2 separate regions of the Homo sapiens genome follow, and region 2 is linked to region 1. The links come from fine-mapping of genetic effects on gene expression. Tissue or cell type: whole blood. Region 1 holds a variant in brackets; the other region holds the start of a gene. All regions are shown on one strand. Distances are from middle to middle.

Region 1 (4,397 bases):
CCGCAAGCTCCACCTCCCGGGTTCACGCCATTCTCCTGCCTCAGCCTCCCGAATAGCTGGGACTACAGGCGCCCGCCACCATGCCCAGCTAATTTTTTTTTTTTTTTTTTTTTTTGTATTTTTAGTAGAGACAGGGTTTCACCATGTTAGCCAGGATGGTCTCGATCTCCTGACCTCATGATCCACCCGCCTTGGCCTCCCAAAGTGCTGGGATTACAGGCATGAGCCACTGCGCCCGGCCACTTTTTTTCTTTTTCAAAGTTATTTTAACTATTCCAAGTCTTGTGCTTTCCCATATACTTTATCTTCTTCTTTTTTTTTTTTTTTTTTGAGACAGAGTCTTGCTCTGTCACCCAGGTTGGAGTGCAGTGATGCAATTTCAGCTCACTGTAAACTCTGCCTCCTGGGTTCAAGTGGTTCTTCTGCCTCAGCCTCCTGAGTAGCTGGGATTACAGGTATGTGCTACCATGCCTGGCTAATTTTTGTATTTTTAGTAGAGACGGGGTTTCACCATGTTGACCAGGCTGGTCTCAAACTCTTGACCTCAGGTGATTCGCCCACCTTGGCCTCCCAAAGTGCTAGGATTACAGGTGTGAGCCACCGCACCCAGCCTTTTTTTTTTCTTTGTTTTTTGAGACAGAATCTCACTCCTAACCATGCTGCTAATATTTACATGGTCCTGCACCAGTGTGTTCATGTAATTTCACATAACTTTTTTCTTTAATTAGGGTTGAGTTTCCTATATAGGCCTTCTAAGCAGCCAGAGATCACACACTTAAATGAGCACCTATTAGCTTCCAGGCATATTATGTTTTCTTTTATAAATAAAAGCCTCAAAATGCACACATGCATACACACACACACGATTACTGACCAAAAGGTATTTCAGTATAAAAGCTAGAGTAGAAGCTCCATAAGGACGGTGACTTTTCCCTGTTTAGGCAGCTTACTAAAAAACCCCATATACTCAGCCGGGCGCAGTGGTTCACGCCTGTAATCCCAGCAATTTGGGAGGCCGAGGTGGGCTGCTCACGAGGTCAGGAGATTGAGACCATCCTGGCTAACACGGTGAAACCCTGTCTCTACCAAGAAAATACAAAAAAATTAGCCGGGCATGGTGGCGGGCGCCTGTAGTCCCAGCTACTAGGGAGGCTGAGGCAGGAGAATGGTGTGAACCCGGGAGGCAGAGCTTGCAGAGAGCCAAGATCACGCAACTGCACTCCAGCCTGGGCGACAGAGCAAGACTCCATCTCAAAACAAACAAACAAACAAACAAACAAACAAACCATATACTCTTCTGTGCTGTTTGGCTTCCCCCCACATTATGAACTTTAAAAATCTTGCAATAAAATAACAATTATGGCTGACACAGGCTATAAGAAAGAAGGCAGGTAACAATGATTATTCAGCAAGGTAGGAAGGACTACAATGGCACACAGACTTGCCATTTTGTACTGCATCGGATATGTCAATGTTAATTGTCATCTCAGCAACAAGATTTTTTCCTTGAGAGTTGTATTTCTCCTCAAATGGACTCTCACTAGTCATTCAATTCCTCCTTCTGATATTACTCTTATTTCATTGATTCCAAGATAACAGATGGTAACATGTACATTTTATGTGCTAATAAAAGGCTGCCTGAGGCCTAGCACAGTGCCTCACACCTGTAATCTCAGCACTTTGGGAGGCCGAGGTGGGTGGACCACCTGAGGTCAGGAGTTCAAGACCAGCCTGGCAAAACCTCGTCTCTACTACAATACAGAAATTAGCTGGGTGTGGTGGTGTGCACCTCTAATCTCAGCTACTTGGGAGGCCGAGGCAGCAGAATCGCTTGAACCTGGCAGGTGGAGGCTACAGTGAGCCAAGATAGCACCACTGTACTCCAGCCTGGGTGACACAGCGAGACTCTCTCTAAAAAAAAATAAAAAAATAAAAAAAGGCTGCCAATTAAACCATATCACTGATTAACCTGGTTTGTTTTCAGATGTTAAAATATGGCAAGATATGTATCACAGAATAAAGGAAATACGGTAAGTCTTTAGGTTCTGTGTCACGACTAACTTCCAGATATAGGCATTACCTTGTTTTCTTGCACTTTGCTTAATTATCCTATGCAGATATTGCATTTTTTACAAGTTGAAGGTTTGTGGCAACCTGTGTCAATTAAGTCTATT[G/C]TCACCATTTATCAAACAGCATATGCTCTCTGTGTCTCTGTGTCACATTTTGGTAATTCTCACAATACTTCAAACTATTGCATTATTATTATCTGTTATGGTGATCTGTGATCAGTAATTTTTGTTGTAACTATTGTAATTGTTCTGGAGTGAAAGGAACCACGCCTATATAAGACAATGAACTCAGCAGATAAATGTTGTGTGTCCTGATTCCTCCACCAACCTGCCATTGCTCGCTGGTACGCACTCTCTCTCAATCTCTTTCCTCAGGCCTCCCTATTCCCTGAGACAAAACAATATTGAACTTAGGCCAGTTAATAACCCTACAATGGCCACTAAGTGTTCAAGTGAAAGGCAGAGTCAGACCTCTAACTTCAAATCAAAAGCTAGAAATGATTAAGCTTAGTAAGGAAGGCGTGTCAAAGACAGGCCAAAACTTAGCCCTCTTGTGCCAAACAGCCAAATTGTGATGGCCAAGAGAAAAACTTGAGGGAAATGAAAAGTGTGACTCCAGTGAATATGTGAATGACAAGAAACTGAAACAGCCTTGTCGCCAATAGGGAGAAAGCTTTAATGGTCTGGATAGGAGATCAAACTACCCAAAGAGAACTAACATTCTCTTAAGCCAAAGCCTAATCCAGAGCAAGGTCCTGACTCTCTTCATTTCTATGAAGGCTGTGAGAGGCGAGGAAGATGCAGAAGAAAATTCTGAGCCGGCCAGGCACAGTGGCTCATGCCTGTAATCCCAACACTTTGGGAGGCCAAGCGGGATGGATCACCTGAGGTCAGCAGTTCAAGACCAGCTTAGCCAACATGGTGAAACCCCACCTCTACTAAAAATACAAAAATTAGCTGGGCATGGTGGCGTGCGCCTGTAGTCCCAGCTACTCAGGAGTCTGAGGCAGGAGAATTGCTTGAACCTGGGAGGCGAAGGTTGCAGTGAGCTGAGATCGTGCCACTGCACTCCAGCCTGGGCAACAGAGTGAGGCTGTCTCAAAAACAAAACAAAACAAAACAAAACAAAAAAAAAGTCTGGGCCGGGTGTGGTGGCTCATGCCTGTAATACCAGCACTTTGGGAGGCAGAGATGGGCAGATCACCTGAGGTCAGGAGTTTGAGAACAGCTTGGTCAACGTGGCGAAACCCCATCTCTGCTAAAAATACAAAAAAAATTAGCCAGGCATGGTGGCAAGTGCCTGTAATCCCTGCTACTCAAGAGGCTGAGGCATGAGAATTGCTTGAACCCAGGTGGCAGAGGTTGGCAGTGAGCCGAGATCATGCCACTGCACACTAGCCTAGGCAAAAGAGTGAGACTCCATCTCAATAAAATAAAATAAAATAAAATAAAATAAAATAAAATAAAATAAAAAAGTCTGAAGCTAGCAGAGGTTGGTTCATGAAGTTTAAGTCATCTCCGTAACATAAAAGTGCAAGGTGAAGCAGCAAGTGCTAATGCAGAAGCTGCAGCAAGTTCTCCAGATTTAGCTAAGATCACTGAGGAAGGTCGCTACAGTAGACAACAGTTTAAATGTAAAGAAAACAGCCTTCTGTTGGAAGAAATGCCAGGTAGTGTTTTCACAACTAGAAAGAAGTCAGTGCCTAGCTTCAAAGCTTTAAAGAACAGGCCGACTCTTGTTAAGGGCTAATGCAACTGGTGACTTTAAGTTGAAACCAAAGCTCATTTACCATTCTGAAAACCCTAGGGCCTTAAGATTTAAGTTAAATCTACTCTGAGTGCTGTCTATAAATGTAAACAAAGCCTGGATGACAGTACGTGTTTACAGTATGGTGTACTGAATATTTTAAACCCACTGTTGAGAGACTTCCTCCTGAGAAAAAAAGATTCAAATTATGGCTGCTCACTGACAAGAGCTCTGATGAAGACATAGAAGGAAATTAATGTTGTTCTCGCAACTGCCAACACAACGTGTATTCTGCAGCCCATGGACCAAGGAGTAATAATTTTGCCTTTCCAGTCTTCTTATTTAAGAATGCAGTTTAGCTGGCCCAGGCGCAGTGGCCTGTAATCCCAGCACTTTGGGAGGCTGAGACAGGTGGATCACGAGGTCAGGAGATCGAGACCATCCTGGCTAACACAGTGAAACCCAGTCTCTACTAAAAATACAAAAAATTAGCCGGGCGTGGTGGCGGGTGCCTGTAGTCCCAGCTACTCGGGAGGCTGAGGCAGGAGAATGGCATGAACCCGGAAGGCAGAGCTTGCAGT
Region 2 (4,397 bases), 47 kb after region 1:
GGCCAAGGCAGGAGGACTGCTTAAGACCAGGAGTTCAAGAACAGTCTGGGCAACATAGTGAGATCTCATCTCTATAAAAAATACAAAATTAAAAAATAAGAACGTTACTTTTCTTATGAGATCCTGGCTGAAGTATTTCAGAGTGAGGTATGATATCTATAACATACTTCCAGTAACTCAGCCAAAAAAACTAAGTGTATGTAAATATATGTCTGTATCACACCTGCCTCTGCAACACCTGCTGTGTGTACAAGTGTGTGTAAAATATAAAAAGAAAACCCTATGTCAGAGGCGTTTGAACCAAAGCAAACCTCCATCTTAAATGGGGACTGGGTAAAATAAGGCTGAAACCTACTGGGCTGCATTTCCAGACAGTTAAGGCATTCTAGGTCATAGGATAACACAGGAGATTTGCACAAGATACAGGTCATAAAGACCTTGTTGATAAAACAGCTTGCAGTAAAGGTGGCTAAAACCCACCAAAACCAAGATGGCAACGAGAGTGACCTCTGGTCCTGCTCCCACTAGCACCATGACAGTTTACAAATGTCATGGAAACATCAGGAAGTTACCCTATATGGCCTAAAAATGGTAGGCATGAATAATCCACCCCTTGTTTAGCATATAATCAAGAAATAACCATAAAAATGGGCGACCAGCAGTTCTTGGGGCTGCTCTATCTATGGAGTAGCCATTTTTTTATTCCTTTACTTTCTTAATAAGCTTGCTTTCACTTTACTCTATGGACTCGCCCTGAATTTTCTTTCCCAAGATATAAGAACCCTCTGTTGGGTTATAGCTCGGGACCCCCTTTCTGGTAACACCTATGCATGTGTCTCAGGCAGGGAGAAGATAAAGATAAAGCTAATGTGGCAAAAAGTGTTAATAATTTTAGAATCTGGATGGTTTTAGAAGTGTTAAACTATTCCTGCAACTTCTATGCAAATGCGGAACTTTTCAAAATGAAAAGTTGGGTGAAGAGAGAGGTAAACAAGCAGTAGAATGGAGGAAAGTCACTTGCTGTGGGAAAAAAGAAAAAACAGACAAAAACTGGGTATTCAAAACGTACTTCAACAAGCCCAAGTTCCTATAGCCAAATTTTTTAACTTGGCAAAAAATAAAGGACCTTTTCAGGCTGATGGTAATTTTAATAAAGGTTTAGGTTGCATTTGTCAAAATTCATCAATGGTACAGGGAATATCTGTGCATTTCACTGAAAGTCAATTTTGGCTCAAAAAATTTAAAAAAGCACTACTGAACTCTAATTCATGGTAAGCATAGTGAGGTGTTTGAGGGAGAAGTGTTGTGATATCTGCAACTTACTTTGAAATGTTTCCAAAAATAGGTGGATTAATGAATGGCTGAAAGGATGGACAGAAGGAAAGATAAGGGATACAGTAAGTTCAGCAGACGTTAACCGGGTCGTTCACTGCACAAGTCTTTCAGCTTCTCTATCTAAACCAACATTTTATGTCATAAAATATTGAGACTGGAAGACTGCACAAAGGAAATATGCCACTAAACCAAGGGAAAAGACAGCAAAATGGTCACTAAACACGTGCAAAAATGCGGCCCTCACTGAGAATTGCAGTAAAACATGATTTTGCAAATATCAAATGGAAAAACACACAGGTGATCTAACACCTTCGAGACTCAAGGGGAAGCGGCTCAGCCCACTGGCTCACGGCCGCCAATTCAGCCGGAGGCCGACCCAAGCCTACACTGCCCCTCACACCTGACAGAAAAGCTGCAGACTCGGGGGTTACCCCCGGAGACGGACCAGGACACCCAGCAGGCGTGGCAAAACAGTCTCTATGGGAGGGCGGGCTAGAGATGCGAGCGCGGAACTCACGGGTGACGCTAAGGAAAGAGCGGGGGCGTCCAGACCAGCCCCGGAGCGACCTCGTCCTCAGAGGAGTGACCCCAATCGCCACGGAGCGTCCCCACCCACCAGGAGAACTACGCCCCTGGCCAGACCCTCGCCCTAGCGGGCCCGACATGCCCACCACCCAGGTGAAACCCACCCGCGGACGCGCCCCTCGCCGCCCCACAAGGACCCGGCGGACCTCCACCCGCCAAGACTTCCCTCCGCAGGAAACGGAGGCAGCGCAGGGCTCAGGGATGCGTCGGCACTTACGGTTGGCGGCCGGCGGCAGCCATGTTCCGGGCGATTGCGCTTGCGCGGCTGCCGGGACAAGGATGTGCGCGTGCGCGGAGTCCCCGAGCTTCCCCCGCCCAACGCTGGGGCGGCCGCGGGTACCGGGTTATTCATTACCCTGGCGTGGACTTGCCTCGGGGCGGACGCGCAGGCATTTACTTTCTCCTATGGTCTCCTCTGATTTTTAACCCGATGCTATCATTCTTTTGTTATAGAGCCTTCCTTTTATTTACTGCATAATTTCCTAAAATATTTCTTTATCTATAATCTTTTTTTGAGATAATAATGTTAAAATTCAGAATAAGTACACTCATTATTCATTGGCAATATAATTATTTACTGGGTGCGTGGCTCACGCCTGTAATCCCAGCATTTTGGGAGGCCTAATTTGTTAAAATGACTAGATCTAAGAAATGTAAACAAAGCCAGTAACTTTCCTCTGTAGTAACAATAGCCGGTTGAAAATGAAAACTACACATTTTCATTCTTTCAGTGGTTCTCTTAAACTTTAGCATGGGGAAGCCTAAATATTTACTGACAGGGAAGAGAGAAACTGTGGTATGTGCAACGGAGCAATAGGGGGTGGTTAAAACAAACGGACTGGGCTCACCTAAGGTCAGGAGTTTGAGACCAGCCTGGCCAACATGGTGAAACCCCGTCTCCACTAAAAATACAAAAATTAGCTAGGCGTGGTGGCAGGCGCCTGTAATCCCAGCTCCTCGGGAGGCTGAGGCAAGAGAATCACTTGAACCTGGGAGGCGGAGGTTGCAGTGAGCTGAGATCGTACCATCACACTCCAGCCTGGGGGACAAGAGGGAGACTTCGTCTCAAAAAAAAAAAAAAAAAAAAGGACTAACTTATATACAAGATAGACAGTTCTCCAAAAACAGTTCGAAAAGTAAACTGTGCACTTATCCACATGATACAACTTACCTGGAAATAAAAGACACAAAATCTATATGTTATACAGAGATTGATACATAAGTAGTAAAGTAACAATAACATGGACCAGATAGATTGTCCAACCTCAAGAAAGTGGCAACTGAGGGGAAAGAGTTGGGGAGGAGACAAAGGAGACCTCAGTTACACCTGTGATGCTTGATAGGAAAAAACAAATCAAAACCTGAAAATCTGACTACATGTTAACACAGGTAAAATCTCGATGATACATGGGTGTCATCTTTATTATTTATAGATTATTCTATTACTCTCCGAACCTCTCCGCAGGTTGAAATACTTCACAATTTTGAAATGAAAATTAGAAAAAAAATTCTAAGCCATAATAGTGATTAAATTGTCACTCACAATAGTGATGGTTGGAGCAACTTGGAAATCAATTAGCAAAAGCAATAAAGGATCTTCATGAAGAAAATACAAAAACCTCATTAACAGACCTGAAGTTAAGTTCAGAACACACTGACATATTATTCCTGAATGGAAAGTATTTTTTTAATTTCTCCATGAAGGCCGTATCAGACCAGGCACAGTGGCTCATGCCTGTAATTCCAACTCTTTGGGAAGCCGGGCTGGGGGGATCACCTGAGGTCAGGAGTTCAAGATGAGCCTGGCCAACATGGTGAAACCCCATCTCTAAAAATATAAAAATTGGCTGGGCACAGTGGCTCATGCCTGCAATCCTAGTACTCGGTCTCAAAAAAAAAAAAAAAATCTTCACAAAACTACTAAACAAAAGTATAGCAATTCCAATTCAAAGACTCCCCCCGCCCCCAGCTCACAGAATAAAACAACTTAAAGATCATATGGAGAAAAGTCCAACAGTATCTGGTTAAAAGAACAGTCGGAGACCGGACGCGGTGGCTCACAACTGTAATCCCAGCACTTTGGGAGGCCGAGGCAGGTGGATCACTTGAGGTCAGGAATTCAAGACCAGCCTGGCAAACATTGTGAAACCTGTCTCTACTAAAAATACAAAAATTAGCCGGGGGTGGTGGCGGGTGCCTATAATCCTAGCTACTCCGGAGGCTGAGGCAGGAGAATTGCCTGAATCCTGGAGGCGGAGGTTGCAGTGAGCTGAGATCGTGCCACTGCACTCCAGCCTGGGTGACAGCTATACTCTCGTCTCAAAAAAAAAAGTCAGGCACCCTTTATTAGATACTAAAATGTACCATATTAAGCAGATGGGCTCAAATAGGCACTAATACAGACACAAATATCAGAAGAATAGAAGAGTATGCAAGAAGAGATGAGTAAAAGTAATAATCTAGTAATAAAGTTAACA

What was found. PIP is the estimated chance that this variant, and not a neighbour inherited with it, causes the effect.
Region 2: ZNF329 starts here. The variant in region 1 is the best candidate, but not a certain one, in a credible set for the expression of ZNF329 in whole blood (INTERVAL, PIP 0.79).

Annotation. Positions count from the first base shown.
Region 1 is chr19:58,101,208-58,105,604 of GRCh38, forward strand. It overlaps a transcript of ZSCAN18 not described here. Among named protein-coding and RNA genes, the nearest start is that of ZSCAN18, 5.2 kb to the left of the region's middle. The variant G/C (reference allele first, on the strand shown) is at 2,175.
Region 2 is chr19:58,148,615-58,153,011 of GRCh38, forward strand. ZNF329 (zinc finger protein 329) reads right to left here and starts at 2,175. Exons shown (of 4, transcript NM_024620.4): 1 at 2,138-2,175. RefSeq lists an enhancer at 2,252-2,311.